3 linked regions of the Homo sapiens genome follow. The protein of the gene in region 3 purifies or fractionates together with the protein of the main gene of each other region. This does not show direct contact. Each region holds a gene or a part of one and is shown on either strand. Other genes may lie near its edges.

The links.
Region 1: the proteins of STRN3 (region 3) and SLMAP purify together in Homo sapiens (affinity purification with mass spectrometry; 5 studies listed by BioGRID and IntAct, with this or other methods). This does not show direct contact.
Region 2: the proteins of STRN3 (region 3) and FGFR1OP2 purify together in Homo sapiens (affinity purification with mass spectrometry; 5 studies listed by BioGRID and IntAct, with this or other methods). This does not show direct contact.

What each region holds. Positions count from the first base shown.
Region 1 is NC_000003.12:57,857,296-57,864,323, forward strand, and holds part of SLMAP (sarcolemmal membrane-associated protein), read left to right. Parts: intron 1-437; coding exon 438-533; intron 534-792; coding exon 793-864; intron 865-3,403; coding exon 3,404-3,544; intron 3,545-4,653; coding exon 4,654-4,791; intron 4,792-7,028. UniProt on the Homo sapiens protein: Associates with the striatin-interacting phosphatase and kinase (STRIPAK) core complex, forming the extended (SIKE1:SLMAP)STRIPAK complex.
Region 2 is NC_000012.12:26,941,457-26,948,484, reverse strand, and holds part of FGFR1OP2 (FGFR1 oncogene partner 2), read right to left. Parts: intron 1-7,028. UniProt on the Homo sapiens protein: May be involved in wound healing pathway.
Region 3 is NC_000014.9:31,016,364-31,023,391, forward strand, and holds part of STRN3 (striatin-3), read right to left. Parts: intron 1-7,028. UniProt on the Homo sapiens protein: Calmodulin-binding scaffolding protein which is the center of the striatin-interacting phosphatase and kinase (STRIPAK) complexes.

The DNA.
Region 1 (7,028 bases), on a different chromosome or scaffold from region 3:
TTCCATGACCCCCAGTAGATGCCTGAAATCACAGATAGTACCAAACCCTATATCTACTATGTTTTTTCCTATATATACACATACCTATGATAAAGTTTGACTTATAAATTAAGCATAGTAAGAAATTAACAATAATAATAAAATAGAACAATTACAACAGTATACTGTTATGTGAATAAAAGTTATGTGAATGTCAACATTCTGTCTGTCTCTCTCAAAATATCTTGTACTGCACTATAACTGAAACTGTGGAAAGGGAAACCAGAGATAAGCGGGGACTGCTGTATGTTTTACAAAGTACTATCAAGTTTCACTACTTTAAAATACATCAAGTGGGATGTAATATGAAAATATTTTAGAATATGCTGAAAATTGATCACTCCTCAAAAGAATCATGATGAGCTTATTAGAATCTGTTTTGTGATTTGTAATACTAGGAGGCCTTACATCGGGAACAAATGTTGGAACAGAAGTTAGCCACGCTTCAGCGGCTACTAGCCATCACCCAAGAGGCTTCAGATACCAGTTGGCAGGTATTCCAGTTGTTTTATATTTAAGAAACATTTAAACATAGTTTAATATTCCATACATGTTAAATAAACTAAAATGTAGCAAACAAAGACAAAGTTATTTCCTAACTAATGAACAAGTTGTTGAAGATTTAGCATTTTACAGTGGATGCTGGTCAGTTTTACGCTTTTATATCTTTTGTTGTCAGTAGCAACCTTTTTTTATATACATGTGACTTTATAATTACTCGGGTTTTACTTACATTTAATTTTTCTTCAATAGGCTTTAATAGATGAAGATAGACTCTTATCACGGTTAGAAGTTATGGGAAACCAATTACAGGCATGCTCCAAAGTAGGTATTAACCTCAAATGTGTAAAATGAAATGCATAGTTTTTTATGTAACATCATTTCTTTGACTATCATTTTGAGTATATGCTAAAAACTTCATACATTTCCACAATTCTTTTAAATCTTTTGTGCTGAGAAACGTCAGACATCCATGTAAATAAAAATAATTACATAATGAATACCCATGTACAAGTCTGTCTTTTTTCTATTGCAGTTAATATTTCTTGAAAAAACTGGGTCATTTGTCCTCTAGAATTTCCCTCAGTCTGCATTGTTATTTAAACATTTTTTAGCTCCCCCTCCCACTCCATAAAGTAGTAGTTCCATCTAGAGATTTGATGTGATTTAGGTTCAGTTTTTCTTTTTGTCAACAACACTTTATGGATGGTATTGTGTTCTTCCACCAAGGGACAACATAATGTCTAGTTGTCTTTCTTTTTGAGATTTTTATCAATCATTGATGATCCCAGGCTAGATCCATTATTTCATTACGGTTACAAATAAGGCTGGGCGCAGTGGCTCACACCTATAATCCCAGCACTTTGGGAGGATGAGGCGGGCGAATCACCTGAGCTCGAGAGTTCAAGACCAGTCCAACCGACATGGAGAAATCCCATCACTACTAAAAATACAAAATTAGCCGGGCATGGTGGCACATGCCTGTAATCCCAGCTACTCAGAAGGCTGAGACAGGAGAATCCCTTGAACCCAGGAGGCAGAGGTTGCAGTGAGCCAAGATCGTGCCATTGCAATGTAGCCTGGGCAACAAGAGTGAAACTCTGTCTCAACAACAACAACAACAACAAAAAAGTTACAAAAATAATGATGTAATTCTGTTATTCCTTCACTTATTTAGCTGGGTTACTTCTATAAAGAGAAGTTTCCTTCCATACACAGTGGCTCATGCCTGTAATCCTAGCACTTTGGGAGGCCAAGGCAGGCGGATTGCTTGAGGTCAGGAGTTCAAAACCAGCGTGGCCAACATGGCGAAACCCCGTCTCTACTAAAAGTACAAAAATTAGCTGGACATGGTGGCATGTACCTGTAATCCAAGCTACTCAAGAGGCTGAGACAGAATTGCTTAAACCCGGTGGGGGTGGAGGTTGCAGTGAGCCAAGATCGCACCTCTGAACTCCAGCCTGGGCGACAGAGCGAGACTGTCTCAAAAAAAAAAAAAAAAAAAGCGGGGGCAGTTTGAGACCAGTATGGGCAACATGGCAAAACCCAGTATCTACCAAAAATTAAAGATTTGCTTAGCATAGTGGTACATAACCTGTAGTCCTAGCTACTCGGGAGGCTTAGGTGGAAGGATCGCTTGAGCCCAGGAGTTTGTGATTACAGTGAGTTATGATCGCAGAACTGCGCTCCAGCCTTGGTGACAAAGAGAGACCCTGTCTCTAAAAAAACGAAAAAAGGAAAAACAATGGCCATTGTTTTTTGTAACTTTGGCATCAAAAACCAAATACCACATGTTCTCATTTATAAGTGGAAGCTAAGCTATAGGTATGTAAAGGCATAAAGAGTGCTATAATGGACATTGGAGACTCAGAAGTTGGGAAAGTGAGAGGGGAGTGAGGGATGAAAAACTCCCTATTGAATACAATATACACTACTCAGGTAATGAGTGCACTAAAACCCCAGACATCACCACTACATAATTCATCCATGTAACCAAAAACCACTTGTATCTCTAAAGGTATTGGAATAAAAAAATTTAAATAACCCTGAGGTATGTTTTCTACGGGGAAAGCAAGATAAGTGATTTTCTCCCCTTATTTATTAGATTTCAGAATAATGAATTGGTGGTTTTTCATCTACCAAAGACTGGCCATGAAGTGTTTTCTCACTCCACTTAGATTTAAACATATTTGATGTATTTAAATCTGGTGCAGTTGTTTTTCTTGTTTTAGAGACAGGGTCTTGCTATGTTGCCCAGGCTGGTCTTGAACTCCTGGGCTCACGCAATCCTCCCATCTCGGCCTCCCAAAGTGCCACGGCCAGCCTATTTTTCTTATTGATGCTCAAATTATCCCATCTTTGGTCTGTGTAAATGTCTTCAGAGTGATAGCTTCATGCTGTCATTTCAGACAAGATGTTTCAGGCTCATTTTGTACTTTTCCTGCCCCAGACATGAAGTCTGCTTTTCCCCCATGGTACTCTTATTCCTTTTGTTTTAACCATTGTTTCAGAATGCTTGGTGCCTTTGAAGGTAATTGATTATTTTTGCCTACAAATGTGAATATGGTGGCTTGCAGAAAATATGACAAATATAAAAGTAACTAATTTTGTATATTTTAGGGAAATTCTCAATTGCCTATAACTTTTTTTTTCTATAGGAAGTGGAAATTAGTAAGTTTGTGAAGGCATAATTTACTTATGCAACTTGTAAATACATCTTTAGTTAATACAGGGCCAGAATCATTTATGTTTGGAGGTACCTTAATATATAATTTAAAGTATATCATAATGTGTTAATTTTTTTCAAACAATAAATGCTTTTAAAAAATAACTTGTCTATAATTATAAATATCTTTTATTGTAGAATCAAACAGAAGATAGTTTACGAAAGGAACTTATAGCATTACAAGAGGATAAACATAACTATGAGACAACAGCCAAAGAGTCCCTGAGGCGGGTTCTTCAGGAGAAAATTGAAGTGGTTAGAAAACTTTCAGAAGTTGAGGTATTTCAATCAAAAAAAAAATACTAAATAGTATTATGAGTGTTCAAAAAAATCTCAAGCATTCCAGGATACTTTAAACTTGGGTATTATTATATAGTTAGGAAATACTTTCTGTCTGTCAGGTGGGAAGGAACAGTTACGCTGCTTTCATTGACAGCAATTCTCCATGTGAGTTTTGGTACTTACTCCCTAGTCAATGGCTGAGGAAATAAAAGCGTAACCAGGGAATCTTATTGTTTGCATTCTGCTTAGGATTCACCCTCCATACAGCAGACCATGATATGTGCTGGGGAATTGATTTCCTGTCACTTGGTTTTGCTTTGCTTCTATTTGAGGGGGGTCAGTGTAAGGCCAAGAGTCTACACTACTTGTTCTTTTTTAATTCACTCTGCAGAGAGGAAAACTAGCTGTGTCATATATTTAGGAAGTTCAAAGGTGAAATCATCTCCAAGGTCCTTTCTAGGTCTTGGAGGAGCAATCAAAATGCAATTTTTATTGCTTTGGGGAAAAAAATTCTAATTCATAATATAGATCTTTTCTTTGAACCACTGCAAAATTACCACATAAATAATGTATTACTAGAATTAGTTAAAATGCTCATCAGAAACTAAATGGTAAACATACCTTTCCTTACTACAGGTATAGTTTGTATTGCTACCTCATCCCATAGTGCCTGATTCACTGTTGTGTGATTAATTTGATATATAAAGAAAGTTACTAAGTGTCTTTTAATTTTTTATTAAATTGATTGCTGGATATTATTAAACTTGCTTTCAAGGATTGATAGGCTTAAAATATTTTCACAGCTAAAAGTCATACCCATTGGCCTTTCAAAAATGTAATTATATAAAGGCAGCATCCTTTTCCTGCCCCTGCTCTCCCTCCACTTTTATTTTTTTGTTGTTTTTGTTAATTCTTAGTTATGTTTTCTGTTTTAGTGTGAATTGAAATTCTTATGTTATTTGACTCAGCTTTATTTAAAGTCCAGGGCAGATGTTGATTTAGAATAGTCCATAGAATTATACTTTTTATAAATTTCATTTAGAAGGAATTCTAAATAACAAATATACACTTATTCTAATTAAATTGCCTGTAAACTTGAATCGCAGCGAAGTCTGAGTAATACTGAAGATGAATGTACCCATCTGAAAGAAATGAATGAAAGGACTCAGGAAGAATTAAGAGAATTAGCCAACAAATATAATGGAGCAGTTAATGAGATTAAAGATTTATCTGATAAATTAAAGGTATGTATTTACTCTGCCTGAAAGTATGTTAAGCTAATAATCCCTAACACACTAGATAGCTTAAGATTTTAGGTATTGCTTTAGCTGGGCGTGGGGTGGCGGGCGCCTGTAATCCCAGCTTCTCAGGAGGCTGAGGTAGGAGAATTGCTTGAACCCAGGAGACGGAGGTTGCAGCGAGCTGAGATCACGTCACTGCACTCCAGCCTGGGCGACAGAGCGATACTCCATCTCAAAGGAAAAACAAACAAACAAACAAACAAAAAACAGTTTGGGCCAGGCGCAGTGGCTCACGCCTGTAATCCCAGCACTTTGGGAGGCCGAGGCGGGCAGATCATGAGGTCAAGAGATTGAGACCATCCTGGCCAACATGGTGAAACCCCGTCTCTACTAAAAATACAAAAATTAGCTGGGCGTGGTGACACATGCCTGTAGTCCCAGCTCCTTGGGAGTCTAAGGCAGAAGAATCACTTGAACCCAGGAGGCAGAGGTTGCAGTGAGCCAAGATTGCACCACTGCACTCCAGCCTGGCGACAGAGCAAGACTTCGTCTCACAAAAAAAAAAAAAAAAAAAAAATTCAGTTTGAAAACCACTGGTATAGATAGATATTTTGAATTGATTTGCATAGTCTCCTTGAATGTGTTAAATTATGCTGAAAGTATGAAAGCAGGATGTAGGTGGTACTACATATTAAATAAGATTTCTATAAAAAAAGATTTTAGGTATTGCTGAATAGTTATTGATGTAAAAATTTGGTAACAGTTGAAATTTATAGTGAAAATAAGGTGTCTGTATTCCATTTAGCCCAACCTCCATTACTATAGATAATTGAAAGCCTGTAAATGCTGACATAGTTCCTCTGGATGAATATGTAGTCAGTGCTTCACAATAGACATTTCTAAAATATATAACAGGAAGTAGATGAGAATCAGCAAAACCCATGATATTCAGATGTTTTAAAACCTAAAACTGCTTATCATTAGGCCATCTAAAAGGCAGGGCCCAGCTATTTAGTGCTGTGCTGGAACAAGCCCAGAGAGAATCTGGGAATGATCTCCCTTTTAGCTTTCAGGGATGCTGTTAACTCTGCTTTAGCTGCCATTCCCTCTATCTATGAGACATCTAGGATAAGGACAGATCAGATCATAGGGTAATGATAGGGTAATGTCTAGTTGGTCCTTTAGAATCTTATAACTGAGGAAAAAAAAAATCTTATAACTGTTTGTGAAGGTCCATCTTGGTTTAATTCAAACTATGGATTGAGTGCCTAGAAGATATGTGTTTGTTAGAGAAGACCAGAGCATACCTCCGTTGGTTAACCTATGATAGTTTTCAAAGTTGGTCTTGTTAAAAGGAGATTGTCATTGTCCATTTTTGTTGCTATAAAGGAATAGCTGAGCCTGGGTAATTTATAAAGATAAGAGGTTTATTTGGCTCACAGTTCTGCAGGCTGAAGCTTCAGGCTGCTTCCACTGATGGCAGAAAGCAAAGTGGAGCTGGTACGTGTTCCATGGTGAGAGAGGGTCTGGGAGAGGTGCCAGGCTCTTTTTAAAAACCAGCTTTCATAGGACTAATAGAGTGAGAATTCACTCATTACCATGAGGACAGCACCAAGCCATTCATGAGGGATCTGCTCCCATAACCCAAACACCTCTCATTAGACCCCATCTCCAACACTGAGGATCAAATTTCAACATTGAGGCTTGGGGGACGAACATCCAAACTATAGGCAGAGAGGTCTTTTTGAATAGTGATTGTACTGTCATCTCGTTACTAAATAATTTTGTTTAAAATTTCAGAATGTTAACATGATAGAACTTCAAAATTGAAATGATAGTAATTTTAGGGAAAAATCTTACTTCCCTCTTTAAAAATACGATTTTTTTTTCCACATTGACCCTTTACCTCTGTGTGTACTGAGCCTACTTGCTTCCTCCAAGTTTCTCTCTCCTGGGTGTTATGGAGGAATAACCCAATGCAGATAATTTTTGACATCAAGCCTTTGTCTTTATCATCTTTACTGGTTTAGAAATGTCAGGTTAGCCGGGCGCAGTGGCTCATGCCTGTAATCCCAGCACTTTGGGAGGCCAAGGTGGGCTGATCATCTGAGGTCAGGCGTTCGAGACCAGCCTGACCAACATGGAGAAACCCCGTCTCTTCTAAAAATACAAAATTAGCTGGGTATGGTGGCGCATGCCTGTAATCCCAGCTACTTGGGAGGCTGAGGCAGGAGAATCAC
Region 2 (7,028 bases), on a different chromosome or scaffold from region 3:
GGCCAGTAAAAAGTAGAACAACACTTTCAAAATGCTGAAAGAACAGACCTATCAACCCAAAATTCTATATCCAGCAAAAATATGTTTCATATATGAAGGTGAAATAAAAGTCATTCTCAGCTGAAGAGAAAGAAGAACTTATTTCCAGTAGACTTATTATAAAGAATACTCTTCAGTTAGAAGCAAAGTGTTATCAGAAGGAAACTTAGAACATCAGGAACAAAGGAAGACCAACTGAAATTGTAAATATCTGGGTAATTATTTTCCTCTTAGTTCTTTTAAATGTCTAATGTTTAAAAACAAGAATTATAACATTTATCTAATGAGATTTTTAATTTATGCAGGCAAATATATAACTACAAGAAAAAGGGAGGAGGCTAAAAAGGCCTATACATTGATCAGATTTCTACATTTCACTTGAAGTTGTAAAAATATCAATTTTAAGTAGACTTAAAAATTTACATATATTGTAATTCCTAATAAATCCCTAAAATAACTGCACAGAGATAATAGTCAAAACTACAATAGATTAATTGAAATGAATTAAAAAGTGTTCAATAACCCAAAAGACAGAGAAAAGGCAAAACAAAGGAATATCAAAGGAACAAAAAGAAAACAAATGATAAGATGGCAGAACTAAATCCAAACATGTTAATAATTTCACTAAATATAAATGTCCTCGACATTTATATTTAGATAAGATTAAGACAGATGATCAGAATTTTAAAAGAGGACCCAACTATGCATTGTTTATATAAAATTCACTTTAAATATGATATGGGTAGGTTAAAAGTAAAAGGACAGGCCGGGCATAGTGGCTCACACCTGTAATCCCAGCACCTTAAGAGGCCAAAATCGGAGGATTGCTTGAGCCCAGGAATTCAAGACCAGCCTGGGCAACATGGCAAAACCCTGTCTCTACAAAAAATTTAAAAATTAGCTGGGTGTGGTGGCACATGCCTGTAGTCCCAGCTACTCGGAACGGTGAGGGCGCAGTCAACCCTGGCTGTGCCACTGCACTCCTGCCTGGGTGACAAAGTGTGACCCTGCCTCCAAAAAAAAAGTTAAAAGGATGGAAAAGAGGATATACTGTACAAATATTAGTCAAAAGAAAACCAGAGGGCTAATAAGAACATGAAAACATGCTCAACATAACTAGCCATCACTGAAATGCAATTCAAAACCACAATGAGATATACCTACTAGGATGGCTATAATAGAAAAGATAGTAAGTGTTGGCTAGGATATAAAGAATGTGAAATGGTATAGCCACTTTGGAAAAGTCTGACAGTTCTTCAAAAGGTTAAACATGTGATCCAACAATTCCACTCCTAGGTACATACCAGGAAAATGAAAGTATGTCAATGCAAAAAACTGTACATGAATGTTCACAGCAATATTATTCAACTGATAAATGAGTAAATATGATGTGTTCATACAGTGGAATATCTGGCAAAAAAAAAAAAGTAGGGGGGAATGATGCCCTGAAACAGGCTACAACATGGATGAAAACTGAAAAAATTATGCTCAGTGAAAGAAGTCAGTCACAAAGACAATGTATCACGCCATTTATATAGTGTCCAAAAGAGGCAAATCCACAGAGGCTGAAAGTAGATTAGTGGATGTCTAGGACTGAGGGATTAGGAAAAGGAAGGAGGAATGGGAAGTGACTGTTAATGAACATACGGTTTCTTTTTGCGCGGGAAAAATGTTCTAAAATCAATTTTGTTGATGGTTACACAACTCTGAATATACTGAAAACCCTAAAAGTGTACACTTTAAATAGGTGAATAGTATGGTATGTGAATTACATATCTCAATAAAGGTGTTATATTTAAGAAAAGAGCTAGAGTGGCTATATAATATCAGACAAGGTCAGGCGCAGTGGCCCACGCCCATATAATCCCAGCACTTTGGGAGGCCAAGGCTGGCAGATCATGAAGCCAGGGGTTCCAGAACAGCCTGGGAAACATGGCCAAACCCCACCTCTACTAAAAATACAAAAAATTAACCGGGCGTGGTGGTACACACCTGCAGTCGCAGCTAGCTGGGAGGTGGAGGTAGGAGGATCACCTAAGCCCAGGAGGTTGAGGCTGCAGTGAGCCACAATCACGCCACTAAACTTTAGCCTGGGCAACAAAGTGAGACTTGCCTCAAAAAATAAATAAATATCAGACAAAGTAAACTTCAGAGAAAAGAAAATTACCAGGGACAGAGGAACATTACATGATGATAAAATGCCCAATCACCAAGAAGACATAAGCATCCTAAATGTATATACAACTATAATTAAAGAGCTTCAAAATACAAATGCACTAACTCAAACAACTGAAGGGATATATAGGCATATCCACCCTTACTGCTGAAAAATTAAACATTCCTTTCTCAGTAACTGGCAGACTTTGTACACAAAAATCAGCAATATAGGCAAAATGAACAGCATCCACTAACTGGCTTGAATTGATATTTATGAAATGCTACAACCAACAACAGCAGAGTACACATTCTTTTTAAGTGCTCAAGATATTCATGAGGATAGATCACATCCTGGATCACAAAACAAACCTTAACAAATTTAAGAGAACTGTAATCATACAAATTATGCTTTTTTTTTTTTTTTTTTGAGACGGAGTTTCACTCTTGTTGCCCAGGCTGGAGTGCGATGGCACATTCTCGGCTCACTGCAACCTCTGCCTCCTGGGTTCAAGCGGTTCTCCTGCCTCAGCCTCCCGAGTGGCTGGGATTACAGGCTCATGCCACCATGTCCGGCTAATTTTTGTATTTTTAGTAGAGATGCGGTTTCACCACGTTGGCCAGGCTGGTCCTGAACGCCTGACCTCAGGTGATCTGCCCGCCTAGGCCTCCCAAAGTGCTGGTATTACAGGCGTGAGCCACCACGCCTAGCCAGTACAAATTATGCTCTCTGATTATAATGAAATTAAACTAAAGTAAGTAATTAAGAGATAACAAGAAAAATCTCCAAACATCTGGAAGTTAAACAATGTACTTCTATATAATAAGTCAAAAAGGAAGTTTCTGGAAATTAGAAGATACTTTGATCTAAATAAACATGAAAATACAAAATATCAAAAATTTTGGCATGTATGTAAAACTCTACTTTGAAGCAAATTTATAGCATTAAATGTTTATATTAGAAAATTAGAAAGATCTCAAATCAATTATGTAAGCCTCAACCTTTAGGAACCTGGAGAAGAAGAGCAAAATAAACCTAAAGTAAATAGAAAGAAATAATAAAGAGTAGAAATCAACGAAATTGAGAACAAGAAAGCAACAGAGAAAACCTAATGAAATAAAAAGCCAGTCCTTGGAAAAAAATAAAAATTGAAAAACCTCCTGAAAAATTAACCAAGAAAAAAAGTCAGCAGACATAAATTACTAATGGAAAGAAGGGATATCAGGAAAGATGAGACATCACTACAGACCTCTAATTCCTTAAAAGGATAAGTGAACACAATAATAAATTCCATACACATGAATTGGATAATTTAAATGAAATGGACTAATTCCTCAAAAAACACAAACTACATAAAGTCACACAAGATGAAACAGACAACTATGAATAATCCTATTATAATTATTTTAAGAAACTGAATTTGTAATTAGAAATCTTCTGCAAAAAATCTCCAGACCTGGATGGCTTCAAGGACAAATTCTATCACACATTTAAAGAAGAAATAACACCAATTATTATACAATCTCTTAAAAAAATAATAGAAAAGGAAATACTTGTAATTTTAATCTCATAAACTGATGTCAGTATTACTGATACCAAAACCAAAGAGAATACAAGAAAACCACAGACTAATATCCTTCATTAACATAAATAAAAAATCCTTAAGGAAATATTAGTAACTCAAATTCAGCAACTCATAATGAGAGTAATATACCCTGACCAATGGGAGTTTATCCCAGATTCAAGGCTGTCTCCAATGTAATCCACTGAAGAAGAAAATCACTTATGCATACCAACTGGCATATTATTAAAAAATTCCGCATACTTTCATAATAAAAATTTTCTGCAAGCTAGAAGAGGATTTTTTTAAACTGAGAAAGGGCATTTTCAGAAAACTTACAGCAAACGTCATACTTCATAATGAATGACTGACTGCTTTCCCAATAAAATTAGGAACAAGGGAAGGATGTCTGCAGTCACCAGTCCTGTTCAATACATTGGTGTAATAAGGCTAGGAAGGGGGGAAAAACCATACAGGCTGGAAAAGAAGAAATAAAACGGCCCCTTTTCACAACCAACATTGTTGTCTATGTAGAAAACCCCAAAGAATCCAAAAAAGAACTCCTAAAACTACTACATGATTTTAGCAATGTCACAGGATACAAGCATAAGAATCAACTGTTTTTCTATATACTGGCAACAAACAAATGGAAACCAAAACTTTTTTTTTTAAAACACACATTTACAATAGCAAAACAAAACAAAACAACAACAACAAAAAAACACAAAAAACAAACCCTGAGATTCCTGGGCACAAATTAAAACATATGCAAAATTTGTTTGCTGATAACTACAAAATGCTAATGAAAGAAACTAAAGAGGATCTAAAAGAATGGAGAAACATACTGTGTTCATGGACTGGAAGACTCAACATAGTAGGGAAGTTTTCTTTTTCTTTTTTTTGAGACAGAGTCTTAGTCTGTCGCCCAGGCTGCTGGAGTGCAGCGGTACGATCTTGGCTCACTGGAACCTCCGCCTCCTGGGTTCAAGCGATTCTCTTGCCTCAGCCTCCAGAGTAGCTGAGATTACAAGCGTGCGCCACCACGCCCAGCTAATTTTTGTATTTTTAGTAGAGATGGGGTTTCGTCATGTTGGCCAGGATGGACTCGAACTCCTGACCTCAAGTGATCCTCCTGCCTTGACTTCCCAAAGTGCTGGGATTACAGGTGTGAGCCACTGCACCCAGCCGAAATGTCAAGTTTTCTGTAACTGTTGTACAAACAGTGCAATTTCCAGTCAAAGTCCCAGCAAGATTTTTTTAGAGAAATTGACAAGCTAATTCTAAAATTAGCTTGGAAATGCAAAGAAACTAGATAACAACAAAACAACTATGAAAACAAAAAAAGTTGAAGAAACTATTTGTTTTCAGTTTTTTTCACACTACCAAAGTTTAAGACTTACTATAAAGCTACTTCAATCAAGGTGGCATAGAGCTGATAGAAACAGAAAAGGTTTAGAGACAGGGCCATACAAAAATGGCCAATGGATTTTTGAAAAAGGTGCAAAGGCAAGTCAAAGGAGAAAGGTTGGCTTTTTTCAACAAATGGTGTTGGAAGAACTGGACATCTATATGCCAAAAGTTTAATCCCAACATAATTCCTACACTTAATACAAAAATTAACTCAAAATGGACCATAAGTCTAAATATAAAATTAAAAACAATAACACTTTCAGGAAAAAAATAAGAGAAAATCTTTGTGACCTGGGGTTAGGCAAAGGTTTTTGTAAACATGATACTAAAAGCATGATTCATAAAAGAAAAATTTGATAAACTGGACCTCATCAAAATCACAAACTTTTGCTCTGGGAAAGACACTGTTTAGAGAGTTTGAAAAGACAAGCTACAGGCTGGGAGAAAATATTTCAAATCACTTATCCAACTAAGGACTTGTATCTAGAATACAAAAAAGTCTCTCAAAACAATAAGAAAATAACCCAAATAAAAATGAATAAAAGACTTTACTAGTGAACCAAAAAGATATGGACAAATAAGAAACATGAAAAGATGTTCAACATCATTAGCCATTAGAGAAATGCAATTAGAACCATCATGAAACCTGTCCTCTTAAAATGACTATCTATTTCTGCATCAATACCACATTGCCTCAAATGTAACAGCTGTAAAATAAACTCTCCCTATCTAATATGTATAAGTCACTGTTTTCTTCTTTAAAATTGCTTCACCTATTTGCCTTCTCTCTAACCTAATTCTATCCAAATGGATCTCTAGAGTACCCTAGAGGAAAATCAAACTGTTACGTAATAATTTTAATTAATTCAAACTGTTGGTAGCTTTCTGAATCTGAGCAATAACTAACTACCTTATACTGTCATTTGGGCAAGAGGACAAGTGTTATTCCCACTTTACCAATGAGAAAATAGACCCAGGAATTCCAAATCTAAAAAGCTGAGTGGCTCACGCCTGTAATCCCAGCACTTTGGGAGGCCAAGGCGGGTGGATCACGAGGTCAGGAGATCGAGACCAGCCTGACCAACATGGTGAAACCCTGTCTGTACTAAAAATGCAAAAACTAGCTGGGTGTGGTGGCGCACGCCTGTAATCCCAGCTACTCTGGAGGCTGAGGCAGGAGAACTGCTTGAGCCCGGAAGGTGGAGGATGCAGTGAGCCGAGATCGCACCATTGCACTCCAGCCTGGGCGACAGAGCAAGATTCCATCACAAACAAACAAACAAACCAACAAAGCTGAATGACAGCACCACAAAGCAAGGAAAGAGCCAAACTAGTACCAAAAATAGAATTTCTGATCCCCAGTCTAGTGTCCTATTCCTAAGCCACACTGGATTCCCAGGGTCCTGTTTGCTTTTTACCTGTATAGAAATAATCTCAATCTCATCAGGTGGAAAACGAAAAAAAGTAAGTTCTCTGACCCTACCCAACACATGGAACATCCAAGATATTTTTTAAAATTTTCAAGCCAGCCATAGAAAAGAAATGGGAATGTATATGAAGACAGATTTTAAAGAATAAAAAAATTTCAAATATTTTCCAGACATAACAGCCTAGCAACCATTTTAATTAGGTGTCACAGTTAATTACAAGATCAATGAATGTTTACTGATTGGCTTTTTAAAGTTGTAATTAATATCCACTTTATGAAAAACACTCTCTCCTCTCCAGATTGCATAATGAAATACTACTATCAAAATCAACTACATTTAAAATTTGTTAACTATAAAAACCTACCTATTCAGGGAAAGGAATTATAAGCAGCAGGTAGCTCAAAGCATAATTTTTTTTAGCATTTCAGAAACA
Region 3 (7,028 bases):
CACTAAAAAGAAATAATCAACCCATAGAAAAGACAAGGAGAAGCCTTAAATACACTGCTACTAAGTGAAAAGGCTACATATTATACGATTCAAACTAAGGCAACCCTCTGTATCCAAGGGTTCCCCATTCACAGATTCAAACAATGGCAAGGCAAAAATATTCCAGAAAAATAATAAAAATATATATATATATATTTTGAGACAGAGTCTCGCTCTGTCGCCCAGGCTAGAGTGCAGTGGCGCGATCTCGACTCACTACAACCTCCGCCTCCCGGGTTAAAGCGATTCTCCTGCCCTCAGCTTCCCAAGTAGCTGGGATTACAGGCACGTGCCAGCACACCTGGCTAACTTTTATATTTTTAGTAGAAACGGCGTTTCACCATATTGGCCAGGCTGGTCTCAAACTCCTGACCTTGTGATCCACCCGCTTTGGCCTCCCAAAGTGCTGGGATTACAGTCATGAGCCACTGCGCCCAGCCAAAAAATAATTTTTAAAAATTATAGCAACTAGCCAGGTGCAGTAGCTGACACCTGTAATCCTAGCACTTTGGGAGGCCAAGGATGGCAGATAGCTTGAGCCCAGAAGCTCAAAACCAGCCTCAGCAACTTAGCAAAACTCTGTCTCTAGAAAAAATACAAAAATTAGCCAGGTGTGGTGGCGGGTGCCTGTAGTCCTAGCTACTCAGGAGGCTGAGGTGGGAGGATCACCTGAACCCAGAGATCAAGGCTGCAGTGAGCAGTGATTGTTTTACTGCACTCCAGCCTGGGTGACAGACTGAGACCCTGTCTCAAATAAAAAGTTTTAAAAAGTGTAACAACTATTTACATAGCATTTAGATTATATAAGTAATCTAGGCCGGGCGCAGTGGCTCACGCCTGTAATCCCAGCACTTTGGGAGGCCAAGGCAGGCAAATCACAAGGTCAGGAGATCGAGACCATCCTGGCTAACAAGGTGAAACCCCGTCTCTACTAAAAATACAAAAAATTAGCCGGGCGTGGTGGCGGGTGCCTGTAGTCCCACCTACTAGGGAGGCTGAGGCAGGAGAATGGCGTGAACCCAGGAGGCAGAGCTTGCAGTGAGCCGAGATCGCGCCACTGCACTCCACCCTGGGCGACGCAGCGAGACTCCGTCTCAAAAAAAAAAAAAAAGTAATCTAGAGATTTAAAATATACAGGAAGATGTGCATAAGTTACAAACTCATTGTATTGAGGGACTTGAGCATCTGAGGATTTTGTATCCTGGAGGAGAACCCCTGGAACAAATTTCCCCCAAGGATACCATGGGAAGGTATATGAATGTATTCTGGAAAAGGCAAAACTTTGGGGTAGGAGACTACTTGTACTTTCTGCTAAATTTTGCTGTGAACCTAAATTGTCTTATGAGGGGCAGTGAGTGTATACACACAAAAGCGAGCATACACAGTTATTTAGGCTGCGCACGGTGGCTCACACCTGAAATCCCAGCACTTTGGGAGGCCAAGGCGGGTGATCACTTGAGGTCAGGAGTTCAAGACCAGCCTGGCCAACATGGTGAAACCCCGTATCTACTAAAAATACAAAATAATTAGCTGGGCATGGTGGTGCATGCCTGTAATCCCAGCTACTCAAGGGGCTGAGGCAGGAGAATTGCTTGAACCTGGGAGGCGGAGGTTACAGTGAGCCGGGATTGCGCCCACTGCACTCCAGCCTGGGCAACAAAATGAAACCCTGCCTCAATTTAAAAAAAAAAAAAAAGGAAATTAATTTAAATAAATTTAAAACCATTTTGTTAAAAAAAAAAAACCTTAATAAAAATATATTTCAGGTCATGGGTAAAGAGTCTCTGTAGTCATGGCAACAGCCGAGGCAGGCTGCCTGCATACCAGCTACCAGTGATGGGGAGAAGCTGCCAGTCTACATCAGCCTGGGCCATAGTAAGCTGCTGCCACGGGGCCAGCAGGGTGGGCACCATGTTGCATTCATCTCTGTACCCCCAGCATCTAGCAGTGTTGGCATGTAGTGGGCACTCAAAGAAATGTGTGTTGAATGAACAATACCTGTGACAAGCAAGCGAACTTTATTCTTTCTCGACCCTTGTTCCTATGACACACCTCCTCCTGACTGTCACCGTCACTCCTTCAGAGCAGAGCTTCTCTAGGGAACTTGGATGCGAAACAACTATGGTAAAGGACATCCTGGCTGAAGAGGGACTGCACTTTGATGAGTTGAACAAGCTGTGGGTGTTGGACTCAGAGGTTACCCAGCAGACCACAGAGCTCAAAGAAGAGTGCAAGAACTTTGCGGACAAAACTGGCCAGTTTCAGAAAACAGTTGGTGGTTTAATTGAGCTTGTTGATAAACTTGCAAAAAAAGCGTAAAATGCGAAGATGAGGGCCATGGTGCTCCGAACTTGCTCAAATCAATAGCAAAGCAGAGAGAAGCTCAACAACTTCAGAACTCAGTAACTTCAAGCACTAATAGAATAAAAGAAAATTTAGGCAGGGCATAGTGGCTCACACCTGTAATCCCAGCATTTTGGGAGGCCAGGGTGGGCAGATCACCTGAGGTCGGGAGTTTGAGACCAGACTGGCCAATATGGTGAAACCCCATCCCTACTAAAATTCAAAAAATTAGTCGGGCATGGTGGCACACCTATAATCCCAGCTACTCTGGAGGCTGAGGCATGCCAGGCATAGTGGCTCATGCCTTTAATCCCAGCACTCCTGAGATGCCAAGGTAGGAGGACTACTTGAGGCCATGATCTCAAGACCAGCCTAGACAACATAGAAAGACCCTGTCTCTACTAAAAAAAAAATTAGCCAGGCGTGGTAGCACGTGCCTATAGTCCAAGCTATTTGGGAGGCTGAAGTGGGAGGACTATTTGAACCCAAGAGTTTTGAGGCTGCAGTGAGCTACGATCGCACCACTGCATTCCAGCCTGTGCAACATAGTGAGACCCTGTCTCTTAAAAATAAATAAAATAATAGAAAATAATAATTTGGAATGGACAATGAATGGATAGAAGTACAGGTAAAACAAGACTGATCATGAGTCGTTGCTGTTTAAGATGAGTGACACGTTTGTGGGAGGTCACAATACTATATTATTTTCTTACATGTTTGAAACTTTTCATAAAAAAATTAAAGGAGGGTTATATATAATACAATTGTCTTTATGATAAAAAGGATAAACTGTTAAGAGGGGCAATGGATGAAACAAACCTGTCAGGAGATTATCTCAAAGAATTCTGGCAGGAGGAGTACTCTGAACTAAGGCAGTATTAGTACAGAAACAAAAAGCACAGATTGAATCAGTTACTTCCTTAGATCAGCAGTCAGGCTTCATGGGCATTCTAAGCAAAATTTTCTTACCTTTTTTGAAAAAAAACTAGAAGAGGCTCCACAGCATTCATAATATATGCAAAGGGGACTATACAATCCCCCAAAAAATCAAGCATCAGTGAATTAGAATATACTTTAGGATACTGATGTTACCTATATTACTTAGCCTTTTGAATCATTATAGTCCAGTTCACTCATTTTCTTTTTTTTTTTTTTCTTTTTTAGATACAGGGTCTCACTGTTGCCCAGGCTGGTCTCCAACTCCTGGGCTCAAGTGATCCTCCCATTTCAACCTCCCAAAGCGCTGGGATTACAAGCGTGAGACACCACACCTGGCCAGTTCACAGTTTAAATGAAGCTCTTTCCTACTTTAGAACTTCTGCTAAATGCTGTAGCTTCCAACTGGCATGTTCTTTGTACAATTAGGTATTCCCGATACTTCAGATCTAGAAGTATACATTTAGGAACTTTATGAGAATTAAATGTACTGAAGAACCAAAAATAATGTCAACCATATAGAAAGTGTTCAATAGGTCAGGCGCAGTGGCTCATGCCTGTAATCCTAGCACTTTGGGAGGCCAAGGCAGGCGGATTACTTGAGGTCAGGAGTTCAAGACCAGCCTGGCCAACATGGTGAAACTCCATCTCTACAAAAAATACAAAAATTAGCTGGGCGTGTTGGTGGGTGCTTGTAATTCCAGCTACTCAGAAGACTGAGGCATGAGAACTGCCTGAACCCAGGAAGTGGAGGTTGCAGTGAGTTGAGATAGCACCACTGTACTCCAGCCTGAGTGACAGAGCGAAAACTGTCTCTAAAAAAAAAAAAAGAAAGTGCTCAATAAATATTAGGTATTATCTGAAACTCCATTACATATACAGGTTTCCTATCACCATTTATTCTCTCAGCATTCTGCTAATTTGTTGTAACATTTTATTGGCCAGGCATGATGGCTCATGCCTGTAATCCCAATACTTGGACTTTGGGAGGATGAGGTGGGAGAATCATTTGAGCCCAGGAGTTCAAGACCAGCCTGGGCAACAAACTGAGAACCCACCTGAACTAAAAATAAAAACAGCTTGGTGTGATAGTCCATGTCTGTAGTCCCACCTACTCGGGAGGCTGCAGCAGGAGGATCAGTTGAGCTCGGGAGCCTGAGGCTACAGTAAGCCATGTTGGCACCACTGCACTCCAGCCTCGGCAACAGAGTAGGACGCTCTCTTGAAAAAAAAAAAAATTATTTCTAGAGTATAAGCTCCCTGAGGACAAAGTCTGTGTCTCATACATCATTATACACCCAGGATCTAGCACAAAATCGCACTCAAATATCACCAAATAATCATGCTGGAATCAATAAAACTCACAGGCCATACGCAGGGGGAAGGTTCAATGACCTCTATAGTACTAGCGATGGGGAGGATAGTGTTAACTTTAATGTGGCAAGGAATAAAGAATGAGCAAGTGTGTTTTGTCAAGGGAAAGAGGCAGGCACTTGAGATTAACTGAATGGATGTATTGAATTTGAGGTAGAAAAACTAAACGGAAGTTAGAAATACAAGGGACATCTGGACGCCAAAAATCTAGTAGTGGTTAAGAACATGGCCTCTACAGGCAGTCTAAGTTTAAATCCCAGTTCTACTGCCTCCTAGTTGCATAGATTACTTAACCTTTGGGCCTCGATATGCCAGTGTCAGAAAAAATAAAAAAAAGACACCAATTATACCTGTATCAACCTCACTGAGTTGTTTTGAGAATTAAATGAATACTGAATGAATTAAATGAATACTGAAATACTGAAGCACTGAAATAACAATTAGGAAAGAGTAAATAAATGCTAGGTATTATTAAGATGGTACATGGTAGCTAAAAATCTGATTCTGAATATACAGTGAGAACATAAAATAGAACCAGAACCCCACATAATAACAACTGGGAACAAAAGAAAGAAAACATATGAAGAAAAGTGATAAGTGGATGACAGGAAAAACAGAGCGGAAGCAAAAGAAAACAGTTTTGAAGGATTTGTTAACAACAGAGTGTTGGTTAAGTACATACGGTTTATAAGGCCAAAGGATTTGGCAATTTGAAGGTCAATCATGAACAGAAAACATAGTGTTCTACGAAGTGTTTAGAAGGGAGGAGAGAAGAAAGCGAAAAGGCAGACTACAGAGTGGGGTTAATGGGTAGTGGAGGAGCATAAAGAGAATTCTAGATCAGTGGTCCCTAAACTTCATTTCAAGGGCTTCAAAAAGAAACAGGGAATCTGACACAAGGTAGTGGACTCCCTTAATACTATCAATAAAATTTTTTTAACTATTATCACCATCATCTGAAAAAGGAAATGCCTAACAGTAAAAATGTATGAAGGCTAAAAATCCCAGAACAAAGGGAACACCTTTATGAAAAATCACTGTCGGCCGGGCGCGGTGGTTCACGCCTGTAATCCCAGCACTTTGGGAGGCCAAGGTGTGCAGATCACGAGGTCAGGAGATCAAGACCATCCTGGCTAACACGGTGAAACCCCATTTCTACTAAAAATACAAAAAAATTAGCTGGGCGTGGTGGCAGGCACCTGTAGTCCCAGCTACTGGGGAGGCTGAGGCAGGAGAATGCCGTGAACCTGGGAGGCAGAGCTTGCAGTGAGCCAAGATGGTGCCACTGCACTCCAGCCTGGGCGACAGTAGAGCGAGACTCCATCTCAAAAAAAAAAAAAAAGAACATAAACTCTTTGACTACATTTTCTTGTATTAGCTATGTCATATTTTTACACTTGGCAAACAAGCATTTTGTATATACCCAAAATCCACTTACTACATACAAACTATAAAGAAAAATATAAGGACACATTAGCAATATATATAAACTATGCCTTGCAGCAGCATCACAGGCGCTCAATAAAACTTTATTGAAATGTACTCAAGTGGTGTGGGCCACGCAATACTAGATGAAGAATTACAAGTCAGATTCCACTCTATAAAAAAGAGCTAAGACAGTATAACATAATGGTTACAAGAGTGGTAACATGACTACAGGCTTTGGAATCAGACAGACTTGGGTTCAAATCTCAGCTGCAATACTTTATGGCTAGGTGACCTTGGCAAAATGATTTAACCTACCTAAATTTGTCTCCTCACCTGTAAAACAGGAATACTCACCTCATGAGGTTATAGTGCTGATTAAATGGCAGTTTCTAACTTTTAGAAGTCGTAACATGATAGATGTTGCTGCTTAAAGATCCTTAAGTTAGTAGGAGATATTTTGCTTAGACTTACTTGATTTCTTCATTTTTAAGGGGGGAATCTCCTGAATTTTCCATTTTCAGGGTTTTCAAAAGCTGGTCTGGAATAGTAATTTGCAAATCCTAGTGTCTTTTCCATGACAAGATTTTAATGAATCTACTATGAAATTACAAAAAAGAAAAGTGTAGTGTAGTAATTTTTCTCTTTAACAGGCACTACTGTGAAGAAAGAATCACTTGTAGAACTCTAAAAAATATGCAGGCCTCTTATCCTCTGGAGATCTGGATTGATCTAGGGCTTGAAGAAAATGGACTGTCTGTGGAATTTTGGTAATTCATGTTATATAAAAGTTAAGAAACCACTGTCCTATGACCTTACTAACAATGCTTTACCTGAGTCTAAGGTAAGGAAGAATCAGAGACAGAAGAGCTTTAAGATGTGATCCTTTAGTTTGGTTCCAAGTTTCTAAG